2 linked regions of the Homo sapiens genome follow. The protein of the gene in region 1 interacts with the protein of each later gene in a biochemical or structural test. Each region holds a gene or a part of one and is shown in the gene's direction. Other genes may lie near its edges.

Region 1 (6,063 bases):
CCCAGCCTTGGCAGGAGACCAGTAATGACCTCTGTCCCCGTGCACCCCAGTGATGGCCGCCGTCCCCGTGCACCCCAGTGATGGCCGCCGTCCCCGTGCACACCAGTGAGGGCCGCCGTCCCCGTGCACACCAGTGAGGGCCGCCGTCCCCGTGCACCCCAGTGAGGGCCGCCGTCCCCGTGCACCCCAGTGATGGCCGCCGTCCCCGTGCACCCCAGTGATGGCCGCCGTCCCCGTGCACCCCAGTGATGGCCGCCGTCCCCGTGCACCCCAGTGATGGCCGCCGTCCCCGTGCACCCCAGTGATGGCCGCCGTCCCCGTGCACCCCAGTGATGGCCGCCGTCCCCGTGCACCCCAGTGATGGCCGCCGTCCCCGTGCACCCCAGTGATGGCCGCCGTCCCCGTGCACCCCAGTGATGGCCGCCGTCCCCGTGCACACCAGTGATGGCCGCCGTGCCCGTGCACCCCAGTGATGGCCGCCGTCCCCGTGCACACCAGTGATGGCCTCTGTCCCCCATGCACTCCCAGACAGGCAATGTCCCTGTGGGCCTGTCCCAGGCTCTGTTCTCAGCAGGCTGGGCTCAGCCCTGGTGCAGGGAGTGAGGAGGTGGGAGTAGTAGGGACCAGAAAAAGTGGCAGCTGTTGACAACTCTGCCATCTCTTTCTGAATGTAATGGGAGGTCCTGTCTTTTCAGCTTGCAAGGAAGGAGGGTCCGAGGCAACTCCGCTGTTGCACATTTAGGGACCCCTGAACTTAAATGACAGAATGCCCTGACCACTCTGGAAGGCACTGTGTTCATGTTTGTGTGCTTGACTCTTGATCCGTAAAATGGCTGTTTGTGCAGGTCATTAACTGTGAGATTCAGAGAGTAGGTGCACACGTCCCTGCAGAGATTCCAGCAGGACTGAAAACCAGTAGAAATATATCAGCACCTGGATCTTGCCTCCTGAGTCAGTAAGGATATGCCACAGTCACGAAGGCAGTGGGATTTCGAGGGAGGGAAGGGAAGGCGGCAGGCGGGGCATGCCCTCCGGGGTGCCCGAACACACCTGCTGCATCCACATGTCTTCAGAGCCCTCTCCCTGTGGGAGGCCTTTTTCAGGACAGCCTTGGTGAACTGGAAACGGAATCCCAGCCCTTGGTGGCCCTGCAGTGACTTGGACCTTTCCGAGGTCACCCTGCCACTGCGTGCCCTTCAGTCCCTCCTGGCAGGTGGGGGCACATCCCCCAGCCACTCCCATTTCCTGACATTGTCACTTTGTATAACTGGAAGCCTTCTGTGAAATTTTAGTTTTCAAAGCATTATCTGGTGATGGGCAACCCAGGGCAGCGAATCATTCAGAATTTTCTTATCTAGGCTAATAAACATAATAAAATCAATAAGGACTTTGAAAGTAACTCCACTGGGTTCAGGAAACTGAGTGTGGCCGCCCTGTGGGGTGGTGTTTGGTGAGTGCTTCCCGGAGGTGAGTAGTTAATTCACAGGAGTGACTAATGGCAGCGTCCCACTCACTCCTCCTTCCGGGGTCATGGTCTCAAGGGGTCACTCCATGCACTGGGGATGTCAGCTCATTACAGAATGATATATTCGGGAAGTGTCTCAGTTCTGAGTGCCTTTGAGGGAATTTGCACTTCCGTTCCCACACAGCCTTGCATTGTGTGTGTTAGAGGCTGTGGGCCTTGGGCAGGAGGGGTGAGTGTTGGCACATACCTCCCGTCTCTCCCAGCCTTCTCTGACTCTGACTTTCCCTCTTGAAGGCTACCGGCTCTCTGACCAGTTCCACGACATCCTCATTCGAAAGTTTGACAGGCAGGGACGGGGGCAGATTGCCTTCGACGACTTCATCCAGGGCTGCATCGTCCTGCAGGTGACGGAATGGCTTCACGTGGGTTTGTGGTGGTGGTGGGAGGGGCTTGCTTGCCAGCGTGATGCACCTGACCTTCAATCTAAGGAGCTGGGCATGTGTAGAATTAGTTTTTGGAGCTTATAAAAGTGAGTCTCATCTTTGGAGAAGTAGCCGGTTAGTGAAGTGTGGACAAACATGTTTTCCTCCCCTTGGAAATGGCACAGAGCAGCCCATCTGCAAGACGTGGTTTTTCAGTATCCGGTGGGTTATTTACATGTATGTTCTGGTGTTGTGGTTTTTTTTGTTTTTTGTTTTGTTTTGTTTTGTTTTGAGACCGAGTCTCGCTCTGTCACCCAGACGGGAGTGCAGTGGCACGATCCCGGCTCACTCCCACCTCTGCGTCCCGGGTTTAAGCAATTCTCCTGCCTCAGCCTCCCCAGTAGCTGGGATTACAGGTGACACCCAGCTAATTTTTGTATTTTTAGTAGAGACGGGATTTTGCCATGTTGGCCAGGCTGATCTCAAACTCCTGACCTCAAGTAATCCGCCCACCTTAGCCTCCCAAAGTGCTAGGATTACAGACATGAGCCACCATGCCTGGCCAACTATGGTGTATTTTTACAAAAACTTTTATTCTGAGAAAATGGGCACGTTTTCTGTTGTGGTCATCACTGTGTCCTGCCGTCTGTGTGTGAGGTCAGCTGTGGAGCCTGTGGTCGCTCAGGCCGCCCTCAGTGGGGTCTCCGAGCTCTTCCCGTGCACTCCAGTGTCTGCAGGAGCTGGTAATGCACCCTGACCTGCAAGGCAAGCTCCTTGGTGGTGTCTCTCCTGCTGGGCTCTCTTTGAGACCCACGGGAGATGGAGAGCAGGGCTCAGGGGACCCGCCTGGGAGCTCCACACAGACCTCTGCTGCTGTTTGCAGGTGGTGATCCAGGTCTCTACCCAGGTTCCTCAAGGTCCTGTCTTGTTGGCCTTGGAATTCAGTGAGAGATAGGAACAGCATGGGGTTTTTAGAAATAATGTGGAAATTTGGAAAACGTTCCCAAATTGTTTATTCTGTATAATAATTAAGATGCTAGATCTGTAAAAGTGAGTTTCCTCTGATTTGGCATGGATGCATCAGTCCCTGTTCTTCAGGGATTTGTTGGAGAACCAGGTCTGTGAACATGGAAGCTTCAAAACTCTACGGTTGGGGACCCTTTCCTGCCCCTGCCTCTCGGGGTTCCTGCCAGGTTGGATGACATTTTTACAATGTTCTCTGAACACTTTCAAAAAAGTGTAGGCTGGGCCTGGTGTCGCATGCCTGTAGTCCCAGCTACTCAGGAGGCTGAGGCAGGAGAATCACTTGAACCCGGGAGGTGGAGGTTTCAGTGAGCCGAGATCACACCACTGCACTCCAGCCTGGGTGACAGAGCCAGACCCTGTCTTAAAAAAGAAAGAAAAGAAAAAGGGAAAAGATGCCGTGTAAAATCTCGTTCTGTGTCTGAATTGCCGTAGGGCTCAGATCTTCATTTGAGGTTCTGTGTCTGAATTGCCGTAGGGCTCAGATCTTCATTTGAGGTTATGTTCTATAAGTTAACGTTGATCTTGTGTGAGCTTTCGGTAGCTGGAGTAACACAGGCGGCCTCACAGCGACCTCTCCAGCGCCTTCCAAGGCACATCTGCAGCCAGCGTAGCTCCTCCTGGGAGATGCCTCCTCAAGGCCCTGCTCCAGACCACGTGGGGAGGGCCTGACAGCCAATTCCCAGGCTGTCCCCACCCTTGGAGAGTGACCCTAAACGCTAGACAGATGGGGAATGGGAAAGAAAAGAAAGCTGCAGACCTCAAGTTAAAATTCCCTCAAAAACGTTTTTATTTATCTGCTTTTTCTGAAAGGATAAAGGCTTTTTGAAAATTATTTTCTAACAAATAACATGAACACTTCTAGAAACCCTAGAAAAACACAAAGTATTCAAAATAGAAAGAAAAATTACCCATTACTCTTTAAGCCAGCATTATCCATTGCGGTGCTTTTGGAGTTGGGTGAGGCCGTAGCCTCTGCCAAGTCAAGGAGCCCGGTGGTGGCTGTGGCATTCCTGCAGGGTTGTTTTTTTTTCTTTGAGATGGAGTCTCACTCTTGTCACCCCAGCTGGAATGTGGTGGTGTAAACAGCTCACTGCAGCCTTGACCCTGAGGCTCAAGCGATCCTTCTGCCTTGGCCTCCTGAGTAGCTGGGATCCCAGGCGAGAGTCACCACACCCTGTCCATGTTCCTGCAGGTCTTGATGTGCGAGGACGCTGTGTCTTCCCTGCCACATTTTCTTCTTCTTTCTTGAGACAGACCCTTGCTCCATCACCCAGGCCAGAGTGTGGTGGTGCGAACACGGCTCACTGCAGCCTCGACCCTCAGGCTCAAGCGATCCTCACGCCTCGGACCCCCAAAGTGCTGGGATCACAGGCGAGAGTCACCATGCTGGCCTGAATCTTCAGGGTATTTTACGGTTGAAGTGTCACTTACTTAACCATCCCTGTTTCAGGAGTGTAGGTGGTCACCCTGTCTCTGCCGCTGACCTGGCCTGGACCCTCGGCTGTGAGAGGGAGGGGTGGGCTGGGCTGGAGGAACCTGAAGCCCTCGTGATGTCACAAGCCCATCTGGCTGGGCATCCCCTGCGCTGCACATGCCCCAGGTGGCCCCCACAGCAGAGGCGAGCCACTGGAGGGTGGAGGGCTTCCACGGGACGGTCTTCAGGGGGAGAAGGAAGGGCCCAGGCCCCCAGGAGACTCAGGAGACCAGAGCCTGGGGTCAGGGGCTCAGCCAGGGGCTCAGCCAGGGCTGGATGTCCGGAGCCAGCCCCGCAGCCCTGTGTTCTTCGTTCTTCGCACTCCCACCGTCCGTGTGAACAGCTCCAGCCCCACCTGCGCCTCCCTGTGCTGGGCTCCATCAGGGAGCCCAGAAGACGTGTGTGCTTCTGAAATTGGGTCCCTACATGCCTTTGTCCCAGTGCACCTTGCTCCTTCCATTTACTATCGAGATTTAAATGCCTGTTTTCTCCCCAGAGGTTGACGGATATATTCAGACGTTACGACACGGATCAGGACGGCTGGATTCAGGTGTCGTACGAACAGTACCTGTCCATGGTCTTCAGTATCGTATGACCCTGGCCTCTCGTGAAGAGCAGCACAACATGGAAAGAGCCAAAATGTCACAGTTCCTATCTGTGAGGGAATGGAGCACAGGTGCAGTTAGATGCTGTTCTTCCTTTAGATTTTGTCACGTGGGGACCCAGCTGTACATATGTGGATAAGCTGATTAATGGTTTTGCAACTGTAATAGTAGCTGTATCGTTCTAATGCAGACATTGGATTTGGTGACTGTCTCATTGTGCCATGAGGTAAATGTAATGTTTCAGGCATTCTGCTTGCAAAAAAATCTATCATGTGCTTTTCTAGATGTCTCTGGTTCTATAGTGCAAATGCTTTTATTAGCCAATAGGAATTTTAAAATAACATGGAACTTACACAAAAGGCTTTTCATGTGCCTTACTTTTTTAAAAAGGAGTTTATTGTATTCATTGGAATATGTGACGTAAGCAATAAAGGGAATGTTAGACGTGTGGTCTGCCTTCAGCTTTTCAAATCAAATAGGTCCAAGAACCAGGCCCCGTGCCCTGGTCCTCCAGACAGTCAGTGTCAGATGTTCTGGCTTGCCTGGGACCTCCCAGGGTACCGGGCACCTTCTGGAACATTGTCCAGCCCAGCGTGCACAGCTCTGCTTGTGAAAATCCAGAGGGACTGTCTCACCCTCTGTTCAGGAGGTTAAATTTCATAAGACTGCTCCTTTTGGATGAAGAAATCCAATTTGGTATAGCAGGTTGTGCATTTCCATCATTAATGATTTAGCCATGCTGTGCCCTGCAGTCTCTGCACGTGGCCTGCAGCGTTTGTCCACCCAGCGCATCCTGCTCACCTCGGTCCACTGCCAGCGCTGCCCGGTCCGCCTCCCTGCCTCACTGTGCAGCGCCGGCCCTCCTGGGTTGACACTCCCGAGGCCCAGCCTCATTCTCCAGACGCTTCCCTTCCACAGTGATGCGTCTGGTTTTGGGGCTGCAGCCTCTGGTCTCAGAAAGCCTGCTCCTTCCACCCAGTTGTGCACGACTTTTCTCTGTTCGTTTTGGTCTCTTGGGATCTGTTCAAACCTCTGCTCGGTGTGTTGAGGGGTGAGGGGCAGGGAGCATGG
Region 2 (7,000 bases), on another chromosome or scaffold:
TCCCTTATTTGACTATCAACTCCCTAAGAACTGAATCTATTTTAATCACTATTGTTTCCCTGCACTTAGCATTGCCTGTCACTTATGCTCAGTACATTTGCAGAAGAAATAACTTCAAATACAAAATTGAAATTACACAACACAGCCTGTAAATAGTGGATATATTGTACACATCATATGTATTTGTCAAACTTATTTCTATTGCCCAAGTAATGCAAATTGGTTCAGTAGCTCTGGGTAGTGCTTGAGATTCTGCATTTCTAACAAGCCCCTAGGAGATGTTCATGCTGTGCTCCAAGGAACATACTTTTGAGTACCAAAAGTTTATACTGCAGATTAGTCTCATCCTATTTTTGTTTACTGCTAATTATGACTTAGTTTTAAAAATATTAATTTTTTCTTATAATCTGAGAAAACTATAAGAAAAAGCTAGTATTACAATTATTACTATTTTGCATTGTTAAAACCCCTTGTTATTCTGTAGGGATATGCATTAGAATACATGGATGTGATCTACATTGATATGAAGGAAAGTGAAGGGCACAAATCCACAAATTAGCTACCCAGTGGTAAAAGGGAGGAGTCATGTTGTACTTGAGGTTATAAGCCAGAGATTCTACCACTAAATGCTAATTATTGACAGTACTGGTTTTCTAACCAATGGCTATACCTCCGTGATGTCCTTTCCATGCACAATCCATATGGATTCTCAAAGTGGAATCTGATCCAGCATTTCACTGTTAGCAGTACCATTAGTGAGCCTGAACCTTGCTAGGCACTATGCTCACACATGTATTATCTCACTTAATTTTCAATAAAATTCTGCAAAATTCAAATGAGGAAACCGAGGCTCAGAAATGTTAAGTAATTTCTGCAAGGCCACACTGCTAGTTAATTGCTCAGAATTTTAACCCTCTCAGATCTATTCAATGATTAAGTTCCTTCTCTTTCTACTATAATATATTCTTTTTTCTCTTCCATGGTAGCTTTATTATTTTGAATAATAGATAAAGCATTTTAAAGTATGTACTAATTGATCTAATTGATTGCAGTTGCTATTTTTCTTAACTTTTTGTCGAGATATAATTTAGGTAACAGTTCATCATTTTACACTTCAGTGGTTTTTAATATATTTACTTTATTGTGCAACATATGCAACTCAATGTTTTCTATATTCAGTATGTACTGTATTAAGTACCACTGTCTAATTCCAGAACATTTCTATCATCCCAAAAAAGAAACTGTGCATATTAACAGTCAGTCCCAACTCTCTGTTCCTTCACATCCCATGATCTACTTTCTGTCTGTATGGGTTTGCCTATTCTAGACTTCATATAAATATACATATAAGTATTTCATATAAAAATTTCATTAAAATGTTCATACAGTATGTAGACTTTTGTGTCTAGTTTTTTTTCACTTAATGTCATGTTTTCAAAGTTCATGTTCTCACATATAATAGTACTTCGTTCCTTTTTATGGCTGCAATAATATTGCATTCTGTTGATTACATTTTATCACTCATTAGCTGATGGACCTTTGGGTTGTTTTCACTTTTTGTCTATGAACAATACTGCTGTGACCATTTGTGTAAAAGTTTTTGTGTTGACATATTTTCATTTCTTCCGGGTATGTGCCTCAGAGTGGAATTGCTGGGTCATATGTTAATTCTATATTACTTTTCCACAGTGACTACACCATTTTATATTCCTACCAGCAATGTATGAGGGTTCCAATTTCTTTGCCAAAACTTGATATCGTCTGTCTTTTGATTGTAGGCATCCTGAATAAATTTCTCTCTCATTATGGTTTTGATTTGCTTTTCCCTAATGCTACTAATGTTGATCATCTTTTCATGTGCTTATTGGCCATTTGTATATTTTCTTTTCCTTTTTTTTTTTTTTTTTTTTTTTGAGATGGAGTTTCACTCTTTTTTTTTTTTTTTTTTTTTTTTTGAGACAGAGTCTCGCTCTGTCGCCCAGGCTGGAGTGCAGTGGCATGATCTCGGCTCACTGCAACCTCTGCCCTCTGCCTCCCAGGTTCAAATGATTCTCCTGCCTCAGCCTCGCGAATAGCTGGGATTACAGGTGCGCGCCACCACGCCCGGCTAATTTTTTGTATTTTTAGTAGAGATGGGATTTCACCATCTTGGCCAGGCCGGTCTTGAACTCCTGACCTTGTGATCCACCTGCCTCACCCTCCCAAAGTGCTGGGATTACAGGCGTGAGCCACTGCGCCCAGCCCCATTCATATATTTTCTTTGGAGAAATGTCTATTTGAATTCTTCACCCATTTTTTAAATGGGTGGGATATTTGTCTTTTTATTGTTGAAAGGTAAGAGTATATATATTCTGGATACAAGTTCCTTATCAGATATATGATTTCCTCCCTTGTTGTTTTTTCACTTTCCTTGTGGTATCCTTTAGTGCAGAAAAGTTTTTAATTCTGATGAAATCTAATTTTTTCTTTGATTGCTTGTGTTTTTGGTGTCTCGTCTAAGAAACTATTGCCAAATCCAAGGTCATAGAGACGTGTTTTCTTCTAAGAGTTCTATAGTTTAATCTCTTACATTTGGGTCATTGATTCATTTGAATTAATTTTTGTATATGGTGTGAGGTAGAGGTCCACGTTCATTCTAATGTTATTGTACATATCCTTATAATACTCATTTCAAAAATACTGTACTAATTTTCTTAAGGCACTGCTAAATTAAAACTTTTTACTGAGGCTTTTAAAAAATATTTTTCTCATCACAAATTTTAAATTTAAAAAACTCTGGGGACAATTGAATTAATATTTATTGAGCATAATGACTTAATTATGTTCCTATGTGACTTTTATTAGAATGAGTGGATTCTTCTAAATCACAACCTTGAGTTTATAGTATCTGAAGATACATTATATGTAGATTGTTATTGTTAAACAGTCTAAATCATTTCTTTTGGCTAACTTTTTTTCAGTGATGATTGCTTTTTTGAGTTATAAGGGAATTTAGGCAGGCAGTGGTTTTCTTTTTACCTATTTTATGTGTTTAAGGTTCAAAAAGATGTGAAAAGTAATAGTTACTAAAGAGTAAAAGAAAAAGAACTGTGGACTGCTCAGCTCCAGTCTCATTCCTCACCTACAATAATCATAAGTTACCACCAAGCTGTTTCTATGGAGATTAATAATTAGTTGAGAACAGAAGGAAATAAATCTCTCTGTAAATTTACTTGAGAGAGAGATATATATAATTAGAATAAATCACAAAGCTTGGTTCTGATAGTTTATGGAGACACAAAGGTTGCTTTGTTATGCAAAATTCTTTTAAATATTTTATAAAAGTTTTATATGATAGATTTATTTTCTGTTCTTTTTTCATGGCATAAACTTATTTGGAGAAAGTGATCTTCTTAACATTTTGTTTTTATTGCCTCCTAGATGCTCACTCTACACATGGAAGGTCCAACTTTAGAGATGAACGATCTAGTAAAACATATGAACGTTTGCAGAAAAAATTGAAGGATCGCCAAGGAACACAGAAAGATAAAATGAGCAGTCCACCATCATCACCCCAGAAATGCCCTTCTCCCATTAATGAACATAATGGACTTATAAAAGGACAAATTGCTGGTGGTATAAACACAGGATCAGCAAAAATCAAGTCTGGGAAGGGGAAAGGTGGTACACAAGTTGATACAGAAATTGAAGGTAACTGTTTGAAGTACTGAACTGTTCTCATTGATGCTATTCTCGTGATTTAACCTACTAAAAGTATATTCTAACCTTTCAGTCATTTTGTCATGGTCCAAATAGACTGTTACAGGCTGCTGCTTTCGACAGTTTGGAAAGCCTCAATTAGTAATTTCATCTATATCGTAAATTTTACTGACTGAAATTTCTATTTGATAGGAAAACTCAGAGAACATTAATCCAGATTCCTTTCTTCTGATTCTGGGCGTTTGATAAGGCTATGCTGCTGGTTTTTAATCAAAACTTTTTTTTTTTGAGACAGGGTCTTGCTTTGTCACCCAGGCTGGAGTGGCACGATCATAGATAACTGCAGCTGGAAACTACAGGCATACACCACCACACCCAGCTAATTTTTTAATTTTTAGTAGAGACAGGGTCTCGCTGTTTTGCCCATGCTGGTCTCGATCTCCTGGGCTCAAGCAGTCCTCCCATCTTGGCCTCTCAAAGTGCTGCAATTATAGGCCTGAGCCACTGTCCCCAACCTATCAAAACTTTTTATTTCTCCCACCTTCTTTTTGAGTAAAACCTTGATAGCAAATAGTTATATCATTTACTAATCTCTCTATATACTCTGTAATTAGGATAGAGTATTTTTCATTTCTTTCTTCAAAAGTTCTTTTCTCCTAAACTCTCCTTGTTACTCTTGGATCCTTCCCCTAACCTCTGACTTCTACTCTATGAACTTTGTTTTATTGGTTTTTGTTTGTTTGTTTGTTTTTGAGACCAAGTCTCGCTCTGTCACCCAGGCTGGAATGCAGTGGCGCAATGTCAGCTCACTGCAACCTCCGCCTCCTGTGTTGAAGCGATTCTCGTGCCTCAGCCTCCTGAGTAGCTGGGACTAAAGGCGCATGCCACCACGCCCAACTACTTTTTGTATTTTTAGTAGAGACAGGGTTTCACCATCTTGGCCAGGCTGGTCTCCAACTCCTAGGCTCAAGCAGTCCACCCACCTTGACCTTCCAGTGTGCTAAGATTACAGGCATGAGCCTACTATATGGACTTTGAGCACTATTATTTGTATATACTTGAATCAATCTCTATAAGGTAAAATATAGCTGGGTTAACAGCCTGTCTTTCATATGCCTACAGTTGTGGAGTTAGTACCCAGTACTTTTGATTGTAATGTTAAGCTTGTAACTACTGCTTACTTTGATTAATGTAGTTTCTATATGTATGTTCTTTTAGGTTTCCTTAATACTGACTATTATCTGTTTGACGTAGATATGCGTATGTAGAAATACATAGATATGCATGGTAGACCATGTCAGGTTCTAAAGGTTTCATCAGAAATGACTATGAACCATACCAACATGTCATTTCACAAGCACCAATAACCACAACTCTATCAGTCCTTGAATATGCTTATCTAAATTGATATTTACTATCAAATAGTGTAGGTAATTAATATATGACTAGGAACTAAAATGCTTCCAACTTTGAGGGAAATATCAAAATGTAAGCCATGTGAACTCTTCCTACCTTCCTTTTCCTTAAAATTTCCATGCCTCACTAACAAATTTCAAATAATGTCTTAACTGTTCATGACTTATATATTAACAACATTTACATAAATGTTCTCCCATTTATTTGAGACCTGATCATCGTTTTCAGCACTGATGTTTCAGAAGAAATTAAGTTAAAGTTTTTTGCCTATCAGTGGTGGCTATAAGTTACAGTCAAGCCAATTATATTTCTAATTTGGGAAACCATAACTAAGGCATGTCATGAAAAAATAGTTAACTTTATTAAGAGGTATGAGATTGACAAATGAGAACTTTCCAGAGAGAATATTCTTACAACCATGAATAAAAATATACTTGATATAAGAAAAATTTGGTTCAGATAGATATAGCTATGTCTAAATATATATAGATATATCTGTATATAGTGGTGTTATAATTAGTAGTCACAGTTAAGATAGAAATAAAAACTAAAGTAGATAAATGCTGAAGGGCCACAAACTGCTGAGTATGAACAAAGGAATAAAAACTAGAAAATAAAAGTCTCAAATACCAACCTAGTTTCAGAATACATATTTAGGGAGAAGAAGGGATTGTATCTAAGTTCTTTTTTTTAAATATTCAAATGTTTTATTTTTTTAAGAAAAAGATGAAGAAACTAAAGCATTTGAAGCACTTCTTTCCAACATTGTCAAACCAGTGGTAAGTATCTTATGTATTTTATTGATGTTTATATTTAATATATTAGCATAAGATGTTCATCCATCAAAATGTAGTTTTTTTCTTTTAACTTTTTATGAAAATAGGATCATACTGTATTCTGTGACAAGCTTTTTCACTCACTATGGTATGCTTTAGCTATCTTTCTATGTCATTACCTGATTCTTTGAAGAGCTACATAGTTTTGTCATTCATTCATCAAATATTTATTGATCCCTTACTATATGCCAATAAATAAAAAACAAATGCACAAACAGAATTCTGTGTGATAGTAAAGATTGCTATTATAGAAATAGGAATGATATGATGAGATTAATAGGAGAGGTTGTTAGGTTAAATAGAGCAATCAGGGAAGCTTTCTCTGACAAGTGAGAAAAAGTGCAAAAGTGGAAGGAATGGGAGAGGGAGAACAGGTGTAAGTAAGCATGGGGAGTTGGACAGAGGGAAAGAACCATTATCACTGGAGTATAGTGAAGGGGAGAAAGATGTGGTGGAAGAAGTAGGCCATAGGACTTTTTCAGCCAGAATAAGGCAATTTAAGATTGATAAGAATATTTTTTGGTTCATAAAACAAACTACTCTTTCCCAACTCTCAGAAACATCCATGGTAAAATGTTTTATACTAAGTTGCCCCAAAAATACTTTGTTTTTCTGAGAAAACAGATTAGAAAAGTTATTATTCTTAGTACCATCTCCATAAAGGCTTTTTAAGCTTATCTTGCCATGTTTTAGGATGTTTGAGTAAGCCAGTTCCTCATCTAATAGACTAATATGGTCCTACTTTTTCTGACAACTCCCAAATAATAGATTTGGTTGCTCTAGCTTTCTTTATTCTAATCTGTTTTCTCTTGAGAATAGAGCATATATGTGTAAATAAATGTAAATTTACACAATTATTTCATAGTAATGGTTAACACAAATTGATTAGCATCAGTCTCTGTTCAGAGTGCTTGGAATGCACATGTGCATTATTTAATACCTGTGACAACCATATATGTACTATTTTCCCTGCTTTACAAATGAGGAAACTGAAGCAACAGTGAGTTTCAATTAGTAGTAGTAGAGCTATGACTGAAATTTAGGCAGTA

The links. Proteins that work in one complex are often made in the same cells at the same time.
Region 2: the proteins of PDCD6 (region 1) and FNDC3A interact in far-western blotting, tested with the Homo sapiens proteins (one study listed by BioGRID).

What each region holds. Positions count from the first base shown.
Region 1 is NC_000005.10:309,534-315,596, forward strand, and holds the end of PDCD6 (programmed cell death protein 6), read left to right. Parts: intron 1-1,759; coding exon 1,760-1,869; intron 1,870-4,883; coding exon 4,884-4,982; 3' UTR 4,983-5,441; downstream 5,442-6,063. UniProt on the Homo sapiens protein: Calcium sensor that plays a key role in processes such as endoplasmic reticulum (ER)-Golgi vesicular transport, endosomal biogenesis or membrane repair.
Region 2 is NC_000013.11:49,132,912-49,139,911, forward strand, and holds part of FNDC3A (fibronectin type-III domain-containing protein 3A), read left to right. Parts: intron 1-3,420; coding exon 3,421-3,690; intron 3,691-5,835; coding exon 5,836-5,894; intron 5,895-7,000. UniProt on the Homo sapiens protein: Mediates spermatid-Sertoli adhesion during spermatogenesis.